Linked DNA regions of Homo sapiens: regions 2 and 3 are each linked to region 1. The links come from fine-mapping of genetic effects on gene expression. A gene starts in region 1. Each other region holds a variant in brackets. All regions are shown on one strand. Distances are between the middles of the regions. Region 1 holds the start of SLPI (secretory leukocyte peptidase inhibitor). Region 2 holds the start of SEMG1 (semenogelin 1). Region 3 holds the start of LINC02597 (long intergenic non-protein coding RNA 2597).

Region 1 (7,699 bases):
AAATAGATTTTTTTTTTTGAGACAGAGTGTCACTCTTGTAGCCCAGTGGCATGACCTCAGCTAACTGCAACTCTGCCTCCCAGGTTGAAGTGATTCTCCTGCTTCAGCCTCCTGAGTATTACAGGCACACACCACCATGCCCGGCTGATTTTTGTATTTTTAGTAGAGATGGGATTTCACCATGTTGGCCAGGCTGGTCTCAAACTCCTGACCTCAAGTGATCCACCCACCTCAGTCTCCCAAAGTTCTGGGATCACAGGAGTGAGCCACCACTCCCAGCCTTGAGATAGATTGAATGAGTCAGTCTCAGGTTAAGATTTGGTTAGGAGTGGAAGTGTCCTCCACCAGACAGGTTCTGGGGATCAGCATGTGAGTAACCTGTTTTAGAAAAGCTCAATCTTGTGTGTGTCGTTAATCCGCTATGCAGCTTTGGGCCTGGATCTTCTTCTAAGGGATTCAGTCTCTTTTATGCAAGCTGTGGGTTTGGTCTAGGGGTTAGCATTTTCTGTAAAGGACCAGACGATAAGTATTTTAGGCTGTGCAGTAAATATTTTAGGTCCCTGTTGCCATTGTAGTGGAAAGATAGCCTTAGACAATACATAAATTAATGGATGTGTGGCTATGTGCCAATAAAACTTTATGAAAACAGGTAACTAGGTGGATTTGGTCCAAGGACTGTAGTTTGCTGATCTAGAAAACCCTTGAAGTCCTCTTTTTAGTCTTAACATTCTATGATGTAAACATTTAGAACCAATTATGTCAAAGATAATAATGATTATATACTATTATCTTCTTATGACACCCATGGAAGACATTGCTAATTGGGCACAGGGCTCTTTTCTGATGAGAAAGGAGCTGGCTCTAATCAGTCAATCACAGATTGAGCAATCAGTCAATCACAGATTTAAAAAAAACTTAAGCTGTAGCATTTTCCTTTTAATTTTTTTTTTTTTTGAGACGGAGTCTCAGTTTGTTGCCTAGGCTAGAATGCAATGGTACAATCTCAGCTCACTGCAACCTCTACCTCCAGGGTTCAAGTGATTCTCCTGCCTCAGCCTCCTGAGTAGCTGGGATTACAGGTGTGTGCCACACTGCCTGGCTAATTTTTGTATTTTTAGTGGAGATAGGGTTTCACCATGTTGGCCAGGCTGCTCTTGAACTCCTGACCTCAAGTGATCCGCCCACCTTGGTTTCCCAAAGTGCTAGGATTACAGGCATAAGCCACCGTGCCCAGCCCCTTTTCATTCTTTAAGAAATAAATATTTAGAAAACTCCAGATAATTTCTTGAGTGTGGCACTGAGGAAAATAGGAACAAACAGAGAGAGAGAGAGAGAGAGAGAACAGGAACTCTGTGAGAGAAATCAAATTATCCCCTGGGTGGTGGAAGTGAGAACAAAAATCTTGACCTGAGAGTGTCATTACCCATTGGTGGAAATCATAGCCTCCATTTCTCTCTTACCTACCCTACTAAGTACTCCAACTAAGAGTGAATGCACCTGGCTCATAGTAGTTACCTTGTGCATATTAATTTTCTTCCTTTTCTTTTTCCACCAAAATTTGACTGATGATTGATTATGTCCAAGTCTTCTGATCCACCAAAATTCAAACCATGGAGTGACTTTTGTATAAAGGGATCTGCTGCCAGTTGCCTGTTTGGTTGTGGAATACTTAAATACTTCATGTGGGGCCATCGCTACTTGATAATGAGTGGGTCTTTCATGTCTGTGGAAAGTTCCACAAACCTTCACCTTAGGAATGAATGGGAGAATTCCAAGCATGAAGATAATGAGTCAAGAGCTTGGAGTTTGTAGCTAGATGAGCTTTGGTTGAATTTTATTTTATTTTATTTTTTTAAGACAGGGTATCGCTCTGTCCCCCAAGCTGGAATGCAGTGGCACAATCATGGCTCACTGCAGCCTCAAACTCCTGGGCTAAAGCGATCCTCCTGGCTCAGCCTCCCAAGTAGCTGGGACTACAGGCATACGTACGTCATCATGCCTGGCTAATTTTTTACATTTTTTTGTAGAGATGGGGTCTCAATATGTGGCCAGGGCTGGTCTCAAACTCCTACTCTCAAGGAATCCATACACCTCAGCCTCCTGGGCAGCTGAGACAGCAAGTGTGCGACCCTACACTCAGCTATGGGCTGAATTTTAGAGATAATGGTCGCTCTCTTTATAATTAGAAGCAACCTATGCAGACTGGGTAGCAAATAGAATGGGTTTAATTTTTTGCTGTCATGTGAGATCTGTAAGGGATTTTGGGGAATTTTAGGAAGCAATCCTCTAAGATCTCAAATTATCTCACAGCTAAATGTAGATTACAGTGACTGATGAGCTGCTTTCCCCCTTTATCTCAGATTCATTTCAATTCTCTTTAGTGGGAAGGGATACTATTCATTTGTTCTTTTCATTCAGAGTCCCTTCATGCCCTTAATTTCATAACCCTCTGAGAAGGGCTGACTTGTTAGTATCATTTCATTTCACAGCTGAGACAACTGAGCTCCAGAGAGATTTGTGGAGAGCGGAGCTCTTCTTCAGCTTTCATTTGTGAGTGCTTTTCCTGTGTCAGGCACAGAACAGGCACTGGGGATATAACGGTGTAAATATTTCAGGGAACTAAGTATCAGTTGGTTGAACGAGCTGAACTTTTGAGAAAGAAACTGCATTGAGTAATCAGCAGAGTTTCACAATGCCTGAGAGTCCAGTAATGTGAGAATCAGAATTAGCAATGTGAGAATAGAATGTATTGCACAAAGTCTCAGCAGGGAGTCTGTGTCTGGTTTTAGTTCCAGGTCCGGGTAGCACCTTTGCAATTGACCACTTCTTCCCTCTCTCCACCTATAAGGCTAATGGCCTGGGATCTTGTGATGTTTAGGGCTCAGATGGACACTGAGATGGCCTCTTTAATCAACCAACTTCCCAGGCCAATCTCTTCCCTTTCTTTTCTGATAGTTGCTGTGTTGGCCTCATAGCCTTACCTGGCATAGGAAAGATAAACAATCTCCTTGGTGTCAGGATTTCTGGTCTCTGGCTACGTTTCCTGCTTATGCAATAGTAGCTGGGAGAGGCCGAAAGAATTCTGGTGGGGCCACACCCACTGGTGAAAGAATAAATAGTGAGGTTTGGCATTGGCCATCAGAGTCACTCCTGCCTTCACCATGAAGTCCAGCGGCCTCTTCCCCTTCCTGGTGCTGCTTGCCCTGGGAACTCTGGCACCTTGGGCTGTGGAAGGCTCTGGAAAGTGTAAGTTGGAGTCACTCTGGTCTAATCTGGGCTGCAGGGTCAGAGGTGGGGTCTCCTTGTGGTGTGGGTGTGTCCCCTTCTGTAGGCTCTGATCCCTCAGCTTAGTTTCGGGAGACCTCCCTGAGGGTGGAATACATGTCTGGCTGAGCTCCAAGGTTTGTGTGACAGTTTGAGCTTCTGGAAATGCTTCCTCTATGCAGCCATGCTGTCAGCCCAGGTCCCACTCTCTCTCTCTCTCTCTCTCTCTCTCTCTCTCTCTCATACTCCGCCTTCTTCTTCACCTGTCTGCGACTCTCAAATCATTAGTTTCTGACTCTGCTTCCTTGTGTCTTTGCTTCTGCTATTTTGTCTCTGTGCTTCTGCCTTGGGCTTTAGCTCTCAACTTCTCTCACACTGGTTCTATTTATCTTTGTTTACCTCTCTCCATCTCCATCACTCCCAGCCTTCCTCTCTGCCTTTGTGTAGCCTTGTTTTGCTCTTGGGTGGGAGGTCTTGACTAGAAGCCTGCTGCCCTTTTCTTGGGTGTGAAACGTCCCCTGTCCATTTGTCTAATTTAATCAAGCCCATCAATACACCTGGAGATCAGGCAGGCATGACCCTTTGGGCTTTGTGGACAGCTACTGAGGTAAGGGTCTCTCCCCCTCAAAAGTGGTGCTTTGTTCAGGAGGCATGATGGGTCCTCAGTACCCAGCCTCCTCCTGACCTCTTGACTTTCTCTTCAAAAGCCTTCAAAGCTGGAGTCTGTCCTCCTAAGAAATCTGCCCAGTGCCTTAGATACAAGAAACCTGAGTGCCAGAGTGACTGGCAGTGTCCAGGGAAGAAGAGATGTTGTCCTGACACTTGTGGCATCAAATGCCTGGATCCTGTTGACACCCCAAACCCAAGTAAGCAGGTCGGGGAACTGGGTAGAGAGGAGTGAGCCTGGGGACACAGCATTAGAGGGATGGAACTGGGTGATGGGTCCTGCCAGGCCTCCTTGTCAATCCGTCAGTGAGTCACACTGCCCTAAGCAGGAAGGTAGCCAGCAGCTGGTGAAGCAGCGGGCATTTAGATAGCCAGGTAGTTGGAAGCCTCCCACCTAGTCAGCACTGGGTGGCTGGCCACCTGCATCAATGGGGGGCCTGAAGTTCTAGGAGAGCCAGGTGCTATGTTTGGGGGCCGCCTTAGGGAGAAGGTGGTGGTGATAGAGGTGGGGAGGGGATGATCCCCCCTGCTGAAGCTGGAGCAGGGGCTCACTCTAAAAAGTGGGGATGGGAGGGGTTGTATAAAGTACAAGGCCTCTGACCGGTAGCCTCACTCTCACCCAGCAAGGAGGAAGCCTGGGAAGTGCCCAGTGACTTATGGCCAATGTTTGATGCTTAACCCCCCCAATTTCTGTGAGATGGATGGCCAGTGCAAGCGTGACTTGAAGTGTTGCATGGGCATGTGTGGGAAATCCTGCGTTTCCCCTGTGAAAGGTAAGCAGGGGATGAGGGCACACTGAGCTCCCTCCAGCCCTCTCAGCCTCAACCCTCTGGAGGCCCAGGCATATGGGCAGGGGGACTCCTGAACCCTACTCCAAGCACAGCCTCTGTCTGACTCCCTTGTCCTTCAAGAGAACTGTTCTCCAGGTCTCAGGGCCAGGATTTCCATAGGATCGCCTGTGGCTTTGATTCTATTCTAGTGTCTCTGGGTGGGGGTCCTGGGCAAGTGTCTTTCTGAGTCTCAGTTTCTTTATCGGTAAAATGTACATAATGAGATTGAAAGTGCTCTGCAAAGCACTATGTGCACTAAGAATTTATTATTCAGGTTGTTTCCATCATGTTTTCTGAGGTGAAATCACAAAGGATCAGTGGAGTTTGAGGATTATCTAGTTCAATGCTTTGAGTTTAGAGTTTTACGGTGAAAATGAGACTTGTCTCCTGACACTAAGTCTCTCTCAACTATAGCGCTATCTTGCTATTTTCTCTATCTCAGAAGGATCCTTGGGCAGGAGGAAGGATGTGGATATGATTTGGCTGGTTTCTATGCTGAAGCTCTTATCTGATTTTCTCTCACAGCTTGATTCCTGCCATATGGAGGAGGCTCTGGAGTCCTGCTCTGTGTGGTCCAGGTCCTTTCCACCCTGAGACTTGGCTCCACCACTGATATCCTCCTTTGGGGAAAGGCTTGGCACACAGCAGGCTTTCAAGAAGTGCCAGTTGATCAATGAATAAATAAACGAGCCTATTTCTCTTTGCACATCCTGCTTCTGTGATTCGTTGGGGGTATGAGTGGGGTGGGAAGCTGTGAGGGAAGATCTAGATATGAGGCCTCCTTCCTATGAATACGTAGTGGGAGGAAGAGGCTTAGGGACTGGGGGAACTTGAATTTATATCATGAGTGTGAAAGTGCTGACTCTGTGATTTGGGACAAGTGATTTTATCTCCTAAATTTCAATGGGATTAGGGATGTACAATAACATGAAGAATCAGAAACCTCAATTTTACTGCCTCTGGCAGGATTGTCAACTGCAGGTGAAAAACTTTCCTGAGACGAGTTTATGCATAAGAGATCCTGCCAACAGTTAAGCTATTTTAATCCAGGGGGTTTTCATCTAAAGCCATACAGAACTGTTGGGGCAGATTCCTGTGTTCACCTCTGTATGTGTTACGATATATATATTGGTTTTCACACTTGATATGTTGTAGGTCTGTCTGTTGTCTAATCCAACCAACACTCTCTGGACACTCAGAAAAATTAAGATTATCTGCAACTCACAGCAAATGGAGTCCTCAAAAAGACTAACCATGTTACGTCAGTGCCCACTCTCGATTATTTTGAAAGACTTGGAATGCCCCAAACCTCACTGGACCATTCTGCTACATACTTTTCTCACCTCCAGCAAGGGTTATTCCAGACTGAGGAACCTAGGCTCGGGCAAATACGCTACTAGGAGTGTGCCCCAAGTAGCACCTTGCAGGGGGAGGAGACCTAGCGTTGAAATGAGATAAACTCCTGGGTTACATACAGAACACATGCTGAAAAAGTGACAGTACTATTTTTTTTCTACTCTTCTTCTCCAATTTTTGGATAATGATAAACTTTTATAATCTTCCTTAGGTCAGGTTTTCTGGAAAACAGTCCCAGAGGCAAATGTTTGTGAACAGGGGGTTTGCTGGGGAGTGTCCTGGGGAGTGACACCTGTGACAGGGAAAAGAAAGCAGGGCTGACAGGCAAAAAAAGCAAAAATAGACAAGTGGGACTACCTCAAACTAAAAAGCTTGCAAAGCTAAAGACACAGCCACCACTACCAGTCTCTGCATCTTGATGGTAGTGGTCCCCTGGGCCCAGCTGCTTTCTCTTTATCTCTTGGTCTTGTGTCTTTTACAATCTCTTGTCTCTGCACACAGGGAGAACACCCACTAAGCCCTGTAGGGCTGTATAGAAATGCTACTGATTTTTGTATGTTGATGCTGTATCCTGCATATTTACTGAATTCATTGATTGGTTCTAAGAGTTTATTTGCAGAGTCTAAAGGTTCTTCTGTAGATATAATTATGTTATCTGCAAAGAGGGATAATTAGACTTCTTTTCCAATTTGAAAGGCTTTTATTTCTTTCTCTTTCCTAATTGCTCTATGACTTCTAATATTAAGTTGAATAAGAGCAGTGAGAGTTGGCATGCTTTTCTTGTTCCAGTTCAGTATGATGTTAGCTGTGGGTTTGTCTATATGGCCTTTATTGGGTTGAGATACTTTTCTTCTATACCTACTTTATTGAGAGTCCTTATCATGAAGGGATATTGAATTTTACCAAATGATTTTTCTGCATCTATTGAGATAATCATATGGACTTTTTGTCCTTCATTCTGTTGATGTGATGTATCACATTTATTTAAAACATTCATAAATGATTTATATATGTTGAAACACATTCTTCATCCCTGGAATAAATCCTACTTGATTATAGTGTATTATCTTTTTAATGTCTTGTTGGGTTCAGTTTGCTAGTATTTTATTGAGGATTTTTGTATCTATGTTCATAAGGAATATTGGCCTGTAGTTTTTTGGTGTGTGTGTGCATGTGTGTGTCCACGTGCCCTTATTTAGTTTTGGTATCAGGGTAATGTTGGACTCATAGAATGAGTTTGGGAGAATTTTCTCCTTTCTCCTCCTTAATTTTTTGGAATAGTTTAAAGAAGAACTGATGTTAACTCTTCTTTAAAAGTTTGGTAGAACTCAGCAGTGAAGTCTTCCATTCCTGGGATTTTGTTGTTGTTGTTAGGAAGCTTTTTATTACTGATTCAGTCTCATTACTCATTATTGAACTGCTCATGGTTTCTAAATTTTTTTCTGGTTCAATCTTTATAGGTTATACATTTCTAAGAATTTATCAGTTTCCTCTAGGTTTTCCAATTTGTTAGCTTATAGTTGCTCATAATAGTATCTAAGAATCCTTTGTATTTCTGTGTCACCAGTGGTAATGTCTGCTTT
Region 2 (7,699 bases), 51 kb after region 1:
CTCCACTCACCTTTTTGTCCCATCACAGCTGCTTGCTTCTCCAAGATGAGGAGCAGGGAAAGTACAAAGATGATGTTGGGCTTCATCTTGCTTGGAAAACCTTGTCTGAGAGCTGAGCCGACCTTGTCATTTATATCTTCCTTGAGTGAGTGTGCCATGGGTGGAGCTTAAATTACAAAAGGCACTGACTTTTCTTAGCTTATCAGTAAATGCCAACTTCCTCACCCCTGCTGAGTGTGGGACAAAGTCAATGTCCCCAGCAACATAATGTCAAAGGCATTTTCTTTCTTCTGGCAGCCCCAGCAAATTTTTATCAGTCCTTTTAGATCATCATGCCAGATCACTTTAATTTTACAGAATTATAGACAAAAGTAGGAAAGAGACTGGCTTCAGGCTACAAAAGCAATTGGTTTCTGAGAATGCCTTTATATTCTAAATGTGAGTTTCCCTTCATGATGCAATAATTTAAATACTCTATTTTAGATAGAACTCCATACTTCCTTTTGTTTTAAAAATGATCTTGAGACACGTTCTATTTTACCTAAGAATGAGCAATCATAGAAGTCCAATGATATAGAAGATAATGAAACGTTATGGAATCCAAAGAAAGAAATTTTAAACAAGTAAATGGGGCACTCCAATGTCAAATATGTCTGTCAAGTTCAACACAATAAAGACTGACATGTATCCAAAGTTTTTCTTAGTTGTTGCTAGTAACTTTAATGAGAGATGAATACAATTGCATTGGGTTGTCAGTTGAAGGATGGAGACCAGCTGCAACCTTCTCAGGAAGTCTGAATTCATGGTGGAGTGAGAGCTGAGGCTGTATCTGGAGGGTGAGGTAAGTTCCAGATGTGTTTTCAAAGGATGAAAGAATTTTAATATGCTTTCATGGTGATAGGAACAACTGTTGGAAAAAAAGTAAAAATGCTGGTTTCTAGATTGGGTTCTTTTCATGAAATCTACCTAAACAGCAGAATTTTCTTTTTAATTAAGAGAAGTTTCTACTTCAGTAGTAAACAGCTGAATCCCCAAACAGGCTGTGAGAAATATTTGCCACCATCAATGAATTGAATAATGTATTGTGAGTGGACATGAAGCTAAAATTCCCACCTTTGGTAGAAGCATAGATTTTTCCAATTGTGATGACATCCTGAAAAGTCTGAAGAAACTTTCTTTACTTTGAGTCATAAAGACTTCGTTATGAGCAGACCACAGGAGAAGAAGAAAGCATCCCAACAGTGTCCCTGTGTACATTCAGAACACCTTGGAGGGTAGTGCTGGGGAAAGGATAGCTTGAAAACTTATTTTCAATTATTCTGTCTTAGAATCTTAACCTTCCTGTAGGCAATGCTCTATGGAAGGGGAAAAGAGAAAGGCCAACCACAGAAAAAAAGTGCTATGCTATCAAACATAAATCATGTGAGCTGCATGGTTTCTCTATGAGCCACTCTGAGATCTTACCAAATTTATCTGTTTGCCTCAAAGGCAGTAAGTAGTTCCTTATTGCAGAAACCCCAACAGAGTAAGGTGATATTGTTCTGAACTAAAATTGATTACTGTGTCTGCTAACCACTGTAATCTTCCTCACACTTCCCTTAAGAAAATACCAGAAACTGTTCTGTTCCAAACTTACTGATACAAAATAGAGTCTGAAATATTAATCTTACTTATGGATCAAGAACAAAACTTTCATCTCATCTAGTGTCCAAAAGATGCAGATAAAACAAAAGGGCACAATATTTGCAAAAACAAACCAGGAAAATGCAATCCAAGCAAAACATGTGATTACTATATTCATATTAGAATTGAATTCAATGAAATGTGGAAAAAAACATTTCCAAATGATAAAGGAATGTATTGATAAAGTTGAAATCAGAAATCAGTGATTTGGAAAGCATAAAAATGGTATGGTGATGCATACATCTTAGATATGGAATTATGATGGGGGAAAAGATTAAGTGATCAAATGATTTGTCCTGTTGGACAAATAAAAAATGCAAAAATATTAAAGTGCACTAAATTGGCACAAAAATCTGAAAGTTTTATACTCATAGGAAAAGAAGAAAACAGGAGGACTTAAATGTATTTTGCTCAATTCTATGGGAAATCACTTTACAACTTAGAAAAGATTCAAATATAGTTATTTTTGGGGAATGGGCAGAAAAACCTGGTAGAGTAGGACTCCCCAGAGATTATACCCTCCAAAACGTCGAATTTAATAATTATCCACATATGATAATAGTTTCTCAAAAGCTAAACAGGCCAGATGAGATATTACAGAACCTGATTATAGTATAATAATTAAAAATACACATTGAAGAGGGCACGAAAGACAATTTTGTTTCCTGTATCACCCCTAACCCAATCACAGGCAGCACAGTGCAGAGAGAGCTACTTTCTTTTGGGGGGAAGGGAATGAAGTAAGGCTTGGACTTTTTCACGGAACAAAATACTAGTCTATAATAGTAAAATTCAGCACTGGGAGGACACCCATAGTGACCCTGCTTGAATACCTGTGGCCTAAGCAGCAAGACCTGCCCCAGCAGCAGAGAGGAACACATAGTTCCTGTGAGATAGACTTGCGTTCTTACCTGTACCACTGGCAGCCAACTACAGCAGCCTTGGATTATGAATAACCAACATACGTAGGCAGGTATCAGTGAGGAGGAGTTGGGAATGCATTCCATCATTGTGCCAGCCTCTGCAGCCATGGGTTACAGCCTGGTGCAGAACTGGCCATGGTGGTCCTGGGTTTATGACATCTCCTTGTGCTGCAATGACTGAAACAGTCACAGGCTTACAAACCTAGAACAGATGATCTGCCTAGAATTTCCGGACAGAGTTGAGGGACATTCTCAGACAAAGCCAAACTGGAGTAAGTACCTACCTTAAATTCAATATCTGCATTCAAGTACCTACCTGCAATTCAATAAGTACCTACTTCTTCAATGTGCAGACATCAATGCACAATCACAAGGATCAAGAACAATCGGGGAAAACTGATGACACCAAATTAACAAAATAAGGTACCAAATGAACAAAATAAGATACCATTGATTGGCCCCAAAGACATGGAGATGTATGACCTGCCTGAAAGAGAATTTAAAATGGCTGTTCTAAGGAAGCTCAAAGAACTTTAATAAAATACAGATAAATAATTAAATGAAATGATGAAAACAATAAGTGACCAGAAAGAGAGATGTAACAAAGGGTAAAAATGATAACATTTAATATCTAATGTTAATATAGGAGCTGAAGAATGCAATGAATAAAATGAAAAGTGTGAAAAGTGCAATAGAGTGCATTAACACCAGAAATGATCAAGCAGAAGGAATAATCTGTGAGCTTGAATACAGGTTATTTGACAATATATACTCAGAAAAGGAAAAAAGAAAAAAGAATAGAATGAAGGAAACTTATGAGATGTATGGAATAGCATTAAGTGAGCAAAGGGACAATTTACTGGCATTCAAGAGAAGTTAGAGAAAGATAAATGGAAAAGTAAAGAAAGCTTATTAAATAAGTAATAACAGAAAACTTTCCAAATCTGAGGAGTTCATATATATATATATATATATATATATATATATATATATACACACACACACACACACACATATATACACCCATATATATACATATACATATATACATATATATTATATATATATGTATGTGTCTATTATATATATATATATGTAGTCAAAGTGCAGGATGGTCAACAGTCACCAATCACATTCAATTCAAAAAAGACTAGACATATAATAATTAAACTGTGAAAGATCAAAGACAAATAAATGATACTGAAGCAGCAAAAGAAAAGAAGCAAATAAAATGCAAAACAGTTCCAATACACTTCACATCAGACCTTTTTTTTCTTTTTCAACTGTTATTTTACATTCAGGGGCCAAGTGTGCAAATTTGTTACCTGGGTATATTGCATGATGCTGAAGCTC[G/T]GGGTATGAATTTTCCTGTCATTCTGATACTGACTATAATACCCAACATTTAGTTTTTCAACCCTTGTCCCCTTCCCTCCCTCCTTCTCTCCTCTAGTAGTCTTCAGTGTGTATTATTTCCATCTTTATGTTCATGAGTATCTGACATTTAGCTCCCCTCTATAACTGAGAACATGTGGTATATAGTTTTCTCTTCCTGCATTAATCTACTTAGGATAATGGCCTCCCACTGCATCCATGTTGCTGCAAATGCATGATTTTATTTATTTTTTATGACTGTGTAGTATTCCATGGTGTATATACACCATATTTTCTTTATCCAATCCACCATTGATGGGCACCTAAGTCGATTCCATGTTTTTGCTAGTATGAATAGTGCTGCAATCAAATCATATTTCTCAAAGGGAACATTAAAGATCAGAGGAGAGTGGAATAATATTATCAAAGTAATGAAAAAAAAGAAAACCATCCAAGCATACTATACTCAGCAAAGCTGTTCTTCAGAAATGACAGAGAAATGAAAACTTTCCTAGACATACAAAGGTGAGGAAGTATGTCACCATCAGACCTATTTTACAAGAAATGCTAAAGGAGTTCTTCAAGGTGAAAGAAAAGGATGCTAATGAGTAATACAAAATAATCTAAAAGTGTAGAACTCACTAATAAAATTAATTACACAGTCAAAATTCAGAATACTGTGATACTATAATGGTGATGTATAAATCACTTCTATCTTTAGTATGAAGGCTAAAAGATAAAACTTGAAATTAATAATAACTACAATAAATTGTTAATGTATATGGCACATAAAAGCTGTTAATTGTGACATGAAAATATCAAAATGCGGGGAGGGAAGTGGTGGTAAGGTGTAGTTTTATGTTTTGTAATCAAACAAATTATTATCAGGTTAAAATCACTTGTGATAGCTACAGGATTTTTTTTAAAGGCCTCATGTTAGCCACAAAGACAACATTTTTAATAGACGCCCTAAAAATAAAAAATAAGTATCAAAATATACTACTAGAGAAACTAACTTAATCATAGTGGAAGGCAATAAGAGAGAAAGAAAGAAAGAAAGAAAGAATCACCAAAGCAACTAGAAAACAATGAAAAAGTGGCAGTAGTAAGTCCTTACCTATGAATAATTATCTTGAAGGTAAATAAATTCACTAATTAAATGCCTAGAGTGGATGAATGGGAAAAAAATAAGATACATCAATAGGCTTCCTAAAAGAGGCAACCATACTGGTAATTACACACATAGACTGAACGATAATGGATGGAAAAAACATTCCACACAAGTGGAAACCAAAAGAGAGCAGGAGTAGCAACACTTATATCAGATCAAATAGACTTTAAGTCAAAAATGTAAAAAGACATAAAGAAGATCATTATATAATGCTAAAGAGGTCAATTCAGCAAGATAATACAGAAATCGTAAGTACGTATGCACCCCAAATCCAAGCACCTAAAGATATAAAGCAAATATTCTGAAGAGAGATCTCTGCATACAATAATAGTAGGTGTTTTAGGGCATTTAGCATTACTATAAAACAATACCTGAGACTAGAGAATGTATACAGAAAAGAGGTTTGTTTGGCTCAAAGTTCTGCAGGCTAAGATGCCTGGTGCCAGCATCTGCTCAGTTTCTGGTGATGCCACATAAAGTATTTAATCGTGATGGAAGGGATTGGGAGCCAGTGTATCACATGGTGAGAGAGGGAGAAAGAAAGATGCCAGGGTCTTTTAAACAAGCAGTCTTCATGTGAACTAAGAGAGTGAGAACTCACTCATTACTGCGGGGATAGCACCAGGCCATTCATGAGGGATCTAGCCCTATAACCCAAACACCTCACACTAGGCTGCACTTCCAACACTGATGGTCACATTTTAACATGAGATTTGGAGGGGACGGATATCCAAACTATATCATTAGAGGATTTCAAAACCCTGTAATAGCAATGGACAGATCACCCAGACAGAAAATCTGCAAAGACCTGTGAGATATAAGCTGCACTCTAGACTAAATAGACTTTAAGGGCGTATACAGAAAAGTTTATTAAACAACTCCAGAACACATGTTCTTCTCAACTGCACAAGAAATATTCTCCAAAATAGATTATTATATGTTAGGCCACAAAACAAGTCTTAACATTTTTATGAAGATTGAAACCATATCAAGTATCTTTTCTGACCACATTACTATCAAACTAGAAATTAATAAAAGAAGGAACTTCAGAAAATACACAAATACATGGAAATTAAACTACATGCTCCTGAACAACCAACTGGTCAAAGAAGAAATTAAAAAGGAAATAAAAATTTCTTCGAGACAAGCTAAAGTAGAAACACAATGTATCAAAGGCTATGAGATACAGTAAAAATAGTTCTAAGACAGAAAGTTACAGCAATAAATGCCTACACAAAAAAGAAAAAAAATCTCAAATAAACAACCTAATGTGGCACCACAAGTAATAAGAAAAAGAAAAGAGAAAACTAATTGTAATAATACTAGAAGGAAAGAAATCATACGGATATAGTAGAAATAATAAAAATGGAGACTACAAACACAATACAAAAGATCAATAAAACAAAGAGTTGGTTTTTGGAAATGACAAACAAAATCACCAAACTTTTAGCTAGACTAAGTAAAACAAAAAAAAGAAGACTCAATTAAATAAAATCAGAGATGAAAAAGGAGACATTACAACTGATACCACAGAAATGCAAAGATCATTAGAGACTCATGAACAACTATATACTAACAATTAGATAACCTAGAAGAAACTGATAAATTCCTAGACCCCTGTAAGCTATCAAGATTTAACTATGAAGAAATAGAAAATTTGGCAGTCAGCAAGATGGATAACTAGAGACCCATGGTGCTCATCCCCACCAGAATAAAGGGTCAAGGTAACAAACAGCTAAGATTTGGTTGGAGTGTCAAAGGGAGAGTGCTGGAGTGCATGGGGGAGTGGAGATGAACCGTGGTGATTAGAAGTTCAGGAGGGCAGTGCAGAGGCATCTGGTTTTTGCAGTCCTGTCTCCCTCCACTCGGATCAGATCTGTCTGGAGCCAAGAGGGTCTTCCTGTTGCAGGGAAAATGTAAGGAGAAGGTCCCCACCAGTCACCTTGTGACTGCAAACATGTACTATCCTTACAAGAGGAGAATCCCACAGTCCTTTAAAGTCCTGAGCCCAGTTTGGAGAGCTGCTGGGAATTCACACAGCTGTATTGCCCTGCATTAGGGGCACAAGGTGTGCACTACCCACATCCCACTCACCCACTTGGGCCAAGCTGCCGCAGCACAGTCCCATCTTGACAACAGAGCCCCCTCTGGAGTGTAGCCTCCTCTGGAACTTCTGACAACCACACTTCTCCAGCATTTGGGCTCCATCTTCATTACGCCAAGGTCACATAGTGGCTGAACTCCACAACCCCAGCTGTGCAGAGTTCGAGCCCAGGATTGGCTGTGACTCTATTCTGGCACAGCAGGGAAACCAACTCATGCCACTGCATTTCAGCTGGGGAATAATTGTCCAGTCGTACCAAGTAAGCCTGTCCTTGAACTAGCCAAACTGCCACATACCCTCTACTAAGCAGGAGGGGCCCCTGAGCTCCAAGCAGCTGATATGGTCCTCCCTCAATACCTGAGAAACAGCCCTGCAGCACCCTTGCCCTCCACAGATACATCCATGGCTTGCCCAGTGACCCAATCTTTTAAATAAGGGCCTGAGAAA
Region 3 (7,699 bases), 74 kb after region 1:
ATAATAAGCACTCCTACAAATAGATTGAAATAATCTGGACAATCCAATAAGAAAGGAAGCAAACGGTATTAAAAAGCAGTCACTGGGGAAAGGTTAACATCTGAATCAATATGAAACCTCTACCATCTCACTGAAAACTAAATACAAGTTCAGAATTCATCATGTTTCCTTTGCATTTTTTTTTTCTTTTTGAGATGGAGTCTCGCTCTGTCACCAGGCTGGAATACGGTGGCGCGACCTCAGCTCACTGCAACCTCCGCCTCCCTGGTTCAAGCAATTCTCCTGCCTCAACCTCCTGAGTAGTTGGGATTACAGGCGCCTGCAACCATGCCTGGCTAATTTTTGTATTTTTAGTAGAGACGGGGTTTCACCATGTTGGCCAGGATGGTCTCAAACTCCCGACCTCAAGTAATCCGTCCACCTTGGCCTCCCAAAGTGCTGGGATTACAGGCATGAGCCACCACACCTGGCCTTCCATGGCTTTTTTTTTTTTTTTGGTATCACAGTGGATTTGCTAAAAACTAGGCAAATTCTTTCCTATCTCTGGAATTCAGTTCTAACAAACGTAAAAATGAATGAGGTAGAAAGATTGTCTCTAAAACTCCTACAGCCCTTTCCACAATGAAAGAGGCTAAAAGATACTATAAAGCTATTTTATTGAAACGTGTGAGATAAGAATAAAAAATACAGAAAGTTAAGATAATTAAAATGAGAGAATAAGGGGGTGCTGAAAATTCCACTGAGAATAGCTGACTTGTCACAGAGTTGTAGAAAATTATCTCAGCCAGATTGCTTCCATCTGCAGTGTCTTCTCTTTGTTTTTGCTTTCACACATTACCTTATGCTGTTCCATCACTCTAGGCTGTCAGGCTCAATCCAATGGACCACCTTTCATGGCCCAGATCAAGTGGATCCATCAAAGTGACCTTATTAGGAAGTTAGCGCTACATCTTAGTTCTAGGCCCAGCAAGGCTACGGAGCACTCTGTGACTGAAAGACCTTCATTCTCCTCTCTGGGACTCAGTTTTCTCCTCCTTAATGTGAGAAGGTGGTTCGTGATAATGTCAAGGGGTACTTCCTGTTCTAAATTGGATGGAAGGCTGTGTAATCAGGGGACATGCTAAGAGCTGATAAACACTAGGTGCCTGTTTTTACCTCCTAGGGCTGACACCTGCTTACCCTTGAGATGGCTGACCCACATGACTGGTTGGAGGAGAGTCTCTCTGTCTCAGTTCTAGACAGGGCATGAGAAGTGGCTTGATTTTTCCTGAGGCTGACCAGTGGCTGCTCTATCGTTCCGTCTTGGGAATCACCATAAAGCCTCAGGGACAAGCAGAGGGCTGCTGGCCTCAGACAAGAAGCCAGAACCCTGCTGGGTTTTGGATTATTGGATCCAGATGGTGGAAACAAAGGGAGGAGAGCAGAGAATATATGTCTTCTCTTGTAATTGAAAACTTGATGTCTGCTAAGCTCATTAAGCCACTGTGACTCACTCAAATGGCATTTTAGAGGACTTAAATGTGCCAGGTGGACCCCAAATCCAGTCATTTTTCCCCTTCTTCTGACTTCCTCCCAAAAGTTGCCCACATAGTCAAATTTCTCCTTAGAAAGCTCTCAGTCAGGGGTGTCCAATCTTTTTTTTTTTTTTTTTCTTTGAGCTGGAGTCTTGCTCTGTCGCCCAGGCAGGAGTGCAGTGGTGCAATCTTGGCTCACTGCAAACTCCGCCTCCTGGGTTCACGCCATTCTCCTGCCTCAGCCTCCCAAGCAGCTGGGACTACAGGTGCCCGCCACCACGCCCGGCTAATTTTTTGTATTTTTAGTAGAGACGGGGTTTCACTGTGTTAGCCAGGATGGTCTCGATCTCCTGACCTCATGATCGGCCCGCCTCGGCCTCCCAAAGTGCTGGGATTACAGGCGTGAGCCACTGCGCCTGGCCTGGGGTGTCCAATCTTTTGGCCTCCCTGGCCCACATTGGAAGAATTATCTTTGGCCACACATAAAATACACTAACACTAACGATAGCTGATGAGCTAAAAAAAATCACAAAGAAACTCATTTATGAATTTGTGTTGGGCCATAATCAAAGCCATCCTGGGCCACATGCAGCCTGCAGGCCACAAGTTGGACAAGCTTGCTCTAGGTAGTTTGGAGGCTCTATTAGAGGGGCTCAAAAACTCCACGTGCTTAGGCCTTCTCTTTTCCAGATGGTGTTACTGAGGTTAGTGAGAACAGGGAACTTATCCAGGTCTGTTAGGAGTAAGACTTAGGTCTGGGAGGTGACATAGTACTACCTGTTCCTGAATTCCAGAAGGGAATCGGAGGACAGAGGGTACCTGGAAGGGACTTGAAGCTGGATAAGTTAACGTGGGTAGAAAGACTCCCTTCTCTGCACAGTTACACAGCCTCCTAGGTGGGCAGGACCAAGCTTAGATGTCGCAAAAAAAAAAAAAAAGATACTTGGTCCAAAGTCACATCTCCCAAATTGGGCCCTCATCATGCTGTGAATTCCTTATTTCTATTAATTAATAATTTCCTTTGAAATTCTAAACAATTGGAAAACAATGAAAGACTCCAAGTATTAGGAGACAAATACTGAGGCATCAATTGGAATTATAGAAATTACATTTGAAACAATTTGATCAAGTCAGCTATTTTCAGACAATTGTACAACGAACCCATGTCTGGGAATCAGAGAACCAGTTCTTTTCTGGGTTTGACTTACTGAGTGAAATTAGGAAATGCATTTCTCCCTTCAGGGGTCTGTGCAATCGTGATAAAGTAAGGAGGGAAATGACATCTCCCCACAGTCATTTTGTTGTCCTTTATGCCATTCAAGATTTGTTAATCAGGTGTCAATATCTCTAGGGAGGCCATGCAGGGACAGCAAAGTGAAACATGTTGGGGCCTTGTATCTCTCTTTGAGGCCTTGGGTCTCCAAGCCCTTGTCTGGTTCCAGCACTCCTTGGACAAGGCTGTCTTCCCTAGTAACAGCACCTCTCATTGCTTGGGAAGTTAGGAGAACTGGTACCCCATATCTGCTTTTGAAATCTGGTTTGAGTCTAGAGGACACATCCAATGCATGGATCACACCCGGAATTATTGCAGAGGGAAGCAATGAAATGGAAGCAAGAAAAATAGCTTCTTTCAAACTCACCCAAAACATTACTCACGCTTTCTTTTTTCTTGATCTTCTTCAAGTGCATTAATAATTTTTCTCCAACTTCTTTCAGAGAGTAGTTTCCAGGAGATTTTTTTGGGGTAGTTGAAGACAATAGAAGGCAGAAGAGGAAGAATAAGTAACTTCCACAATCTCCACCCCAAGAGGTATAAAATAACACCACCACCAAGAAATTTCTAAACAAAACCACATCCTCAACATAACTTGAAAACAAAGAATGCCAAAAATACAAAATACCTGTCAGTGAAAAGGGA[G/A]CAAACAACAAATCCCAGGGCTGGAACTCACACTCTCCTGCTATTTCCAGCCCCACTGTAAAACTTAAAGCTTTGCAAAATCGACCAAAAAAACTGCTGAGGAAGGAATGACATAACCAAGATGGTGAAATAGAAGGCACCTGCTCATGTCCCACCAGAATGACAAGAATTCTACACTCATCCACAGTCCAAAGTCTCTCTGTGGGAGCCTCTGGATCTGGATTCAGGGGGAAGTTTGTGAAACTCTGGTGGAGCCCAAGACCTTGGAGGGTCATATTGAGAGTGCAGACCAACACCCACGTGGCTGATCCACTGAGCTGGCTCCAGAGTTCAATCCCAGAAATGGCCCATTCAGGGGTTTGGTTACATTTGGCCTTGAGCCTGCAATCAAACCCATCTGCTGTGGGGTCCAGAATGAATCACATACACTAGGGCTTTGGCAGAAAGGCCCTTCTGCTCACTGACTGGGCAGTGAATCTGAAAGTTGCCTTGTGATTCAGCTCCAGCCCCCATCAGCTGAGGTCCCAGCTCAGAGCTGCTCACACAACAACCCAGAGGGAGACTCACACATATCTCATAGCCTAAGATCCTAAGCCTCCCTGACAGGCTTGCCAACCTCTGTTGCACAGCAGGTCGAGATGGGATCCAGTCTCAGCTCTGACACTTCCTGCTGTAATTGAACTATCCTTTCGGTGCTGAGACTTGCAGGGAGATATGTACTTGTCTTGGCCAACAAGATGGACTCTCCAGCCTCCATCCCACAGCAGATCCCAAGGTGGGGCCATTCCCAGCTTCAGCTCCTTCTGCTGGAATCAGGAAACTATTACGTCTCCGCAGGAACTTGCTGGAAGATGTGCACTCCTTCTAAGCCAATGAGATCGGGATCTCCAGCCACTGTGCCACAGCAGATCCTGAGGGGCCCAGTATCAGCTCCACCCTCTCCTACTGCAGTCAGAGGACTATTCCAAATGGCAGGGTCTTCTTGGGAGATGTGTCCCTGCCTGACTGAACATGAAAGGAATTACAGTCTCTGTTCCACAGCAAATCCTGGATGGAAGAAACCACTGGTCTCTGTGAGATCTTGAGTTGCTCAGCTACCTTGCTAGGCATGGACTGTCATCCTGGCCTGCTTCCTGAGCGAAAAGAAAGTGTCTTTTTGGAACCTTTCAATTTTTCTCTCTCAGTGGCTTAATCTTTGCCTGAATTCAGACCAGAGTTAGTTCTTTTGTTTTTGCAAATAGTGAACCTACCGTCTGAATCTTGTTTCTTAAAAAATTCAAGTTTTCTTCATTGTTTTGGAACTTGACATTGATCTTTACCTGAATTAGATATAATGAGGCCTGATTCTGGGTTTTCTTTTGTTTTCTATTGATTTCTCAACCTGACTATTCTTCTAATAAAAACAACATATTGATTATTGTTACTTTGCAAAACTTTTTTTTAAGTCTAGGAGGTTCCAGAGCCCTAGGGTTAATCTTCATTTGTAAACATCTACGCCTATTCACAAGAATTTATGCTTCCCCATAAACTTAAGTATGGTTTCAAGTTCCCTTAACCTCCATAACCACACCATATTAAAAATGGATTTTGGGTATAATACACCTTAGGGATAAATTAAATAAATATTAAATATTGAGTAAATAGTGACATCTTCACCACATAGTCTTCATGTATTGTGATATGTGCATATTCATGTATTGTGAGTATGTGTATATTCAAGCATTTTTATATGCCTCTGAAAAGTTACATAGATTTCTCTTCTAAAGCTCTGCCTCTCTCTTGTTTATTTATAGCAATGGTGTGATTTTGTTGATATTAATAATAGAAAATGCAGCATGTCTAACTGATTGTTGCTAGCATATAATAAAAATATCATTTACTATCACTTACTAACCTTGTGGCTTTTAATGGTTACTTAATCTCTCTTAGCTTCAATCTTTTTACAAAATTAGAAAATAAAATATGTATAATGGCCATCTGAAAGGGACTTATGAAAAATAAGTGACAATACATGTAATCTACTAGGTATAGGAAATAGAGTAAATATTAAAAAACAGAAACCATTATTTCCTCCAATGATGTATTTTGTATTTGTCAAGCCAGAAGTTTGGGTACTGCTGTCACCTGTACTCCAAGACACCCTAGTGTCAAAGCCCTACAGTTGTTCGGACTAGCCTCTGAACAATAGGGAAAAATCATGGCTCAGATGCTCGTGGATGGGGCAAAGTGGTGCAGGGATCCACATTGTCTCACCCCAAGCCTCTGCTCCCCATGTCATCTCAGAGCAAGAACCCAATACACAAAGAAGAGCTGTTTCATATCCCAGAGTGGCAGGATTAGACCTTCCTTTGCAGAATAATTATACCTTACCCCCTCAACTGAAATAGACCTCTGAGGCCTGGAAGGGGGACATACATTTGCCAGAGGTCACCCAATACGTGGGGAGGCAAAGCCAGTGCTGAGATCACCTGACTGTCAAGCCTGTGCTTATTCCCCTTCACCCAGGCTGCTCCCCTCCTGGGGGCTGTGGCCTTCTCTGAGAGTTTCCTTGTGCAATCGCAGTGGGACGAGTGGGTCAACAGGAGAGCCATGAGGTTGCTCATATTCCTGCCCCTTTCTCCACTACTCAAGTCTGCCCTGCCCCCAACATGTATGTCTCCAGAGAATGCTATTCACCCAAACCTCTGACACCATAGTATGAAGGACTTAGTGTATCTTGCCTCCTCATTCACATCTTAAAACAGAAATCTGGAAGAGAATATTGCTTAACCTAAAGGAATGCTACTTCATGGAGGAATCTCAGGCATAAACCAGTGAAATTCTAAAGAGCAGGAGTTTCGCAGCATCTGTAACATCATCCTTTCTATGTGGTGTTGAAAAGATATAGATTCCTGGGAAACATTAATGAGAAGGAAGTGGGGAGCTGTAGTTGCAGCCATAAGGGTTGGCTGGTCACACTGGTAAGGCCGACAGTAGCCAGGTCAGGACTGATGGTGGATTGGAAAAAAAAGACCTGCTTATGGTTTATGTAATGTTTATTTATTTTTTGTGTTTTGTGTTTTTCCTGGTCCTTGGCCAAAGGCAAGATTTCCATATTTCCATTTCCTGGTGAAAAGGAGCTGGCAGCACTGGGGCTGATTATTGGATTTGTAATATGAAGCCCTAGCAATGTGCCTCCTGTTTCCTCCCCCCGCCCTGCTCTCTTTCACCATGGGACCGTTTCCCCTCTTCACTGGAGAGAAGAAGTCCCAATTCTACATCCATTTCCCCAAAGCATCCAGGAGCCCAGAAGTCATAGGAACCAGAAACAAGTGGAGCAGAAGGAACTCTTTATTGGAAAGTGGATGAGAGAGGCAGCTCCAGCCGTGGGCATCCTGAATGGGAGGAAGAATGGACAGTGTGGGAAGGGGAAGGGCAGCAGGGACTTAGGACCAGATGGGGCCTGTAGCTCTGGGGACGGCACAGGTGCAGCAAGGACCGGCTCCCTCTGTGGAAGAGAAGAGTATCAGAGGTGAGAGTCAGCACATCAAAGCACTCAGAGGCAGTGAGGAAGACAGATCATCCTTCTAGGCACTCTGGTTATAGCCTCTCAGACCCCTCAGTCTCCCAGTCTTTCTGTCACCTCCCACAACCTCCCTCCCACCAACCTGGGATGCTTCCCCACCGCTCAGCCTTCTTTTGTGTCTTCAGGGGTCTCCTCGTTCTCCAGCTAGTGCTCACCTCACTGGGGAACGAAACAGGCCATCCCGCAAGAGCCTTCACAGCACTTCTTGATTCCTGGGCAGTCAGTATCTTTCAAGCAGCGGTTAGGGGGATTCAACATGGCGCACCGGATCAAGATAATGGGGCAGGAGCCAGGCTTAGTGGAGACTGGACCTTTGACTGGCTCTTGCGCTTTGACTTTATCTTGACCTTTAACTGAAACTTGTCCTTTAACGGGATCTTGTCCATTGAATGGAACACGGCCTTTGACAGTGTCTTGACCTTTAACAGGAACTGTTAAAAGAAGAAACGAGCCCACATTTATACCCAGTAAGCCTCTGCTTCAGCTGCCATGTCTTTCCTCTGGGTCTGGGTCCATCCACTGCTTACTGCAGCATCCTCAAACCATGGCCTGAGTAGGGAAGGTACACCTCTGGGAGCTACACTCTTGGAAGGCTCTTCCTTTTTTGGGGTGGTCTACTGGACCAGAGTTCCCTTGAGTATTTGTTTCTTCCCCCTTCCTCCACTCCAAGTCTCTCAGGAGCAGTGGTCAGACTGGGGTGAC

What was found. PIP is the estimated chance that this variant, and not a neighbour inherited with it, causes the effect.
Region 2: its variant is the best candidate, but not a certain one, in a credible set for the expression of SLPI in whole blood (INTERVAL, PIP 0.70).
Region 3: its variant is the best candidate, but not a certain one, in a credible set for the expression of SLPI in whole blood (TOPMed, PIP 0.50).

The regions. Positions count from the first base shown.
Region 1 is chr20:45,250,006-45,257,704 of GRCh38, reverse strand. It overlaps SLPI (secretory leukocyte peptidase inhibitor), which reads left to right and starts at 3,141. Exons shown (of 4, transcript NM_003064.4): 1 at 3,141-3,246; 2 at 3,972-4,130; 3 at 4,554-4,703; 4 at 5,286-5,466. The coding sequence starts at 3,162. The coding sequence ends at 5,290. The region is part of intron 2 of LOC105372630 (a long non-coding RNA gene); the gene reads right to left.
Region 2 is chr20:45,199,441-45,207,139 of GRCh38, reverse strand. It overlaps SEMG1 (semenogelin 1), which reads right to left and starts at 107. Exons shown (of 3, transcript NM_003007.5): 1 at 11-107. The coding sequence starts at 86. The variant G/T (reference allele first, on the strand shown) is at 3,960.
Region 3 is chr20:45,175,590-45,183,288 of GRCh38, reverse strand. LINC02597 (long intergenic non-protein coding RNA 2597) reads right to left here and starts at 3,302. Exons shown (of 4, transcript NR_187568.1): 1 at 3,155-3,302. It overlaps PI3 (peptidase inhibitor 3), which reads right to left. Exons shown (of 3, transcript NM_002638.4): 2 at 7,153-7,428; 3 at 6,745-6,919. The coding sequence ends at 7,154. RefSeq lists an enhancer at 7,598-7,699. The variant G/A (reference allele first, on the strand shown) is at 3,433.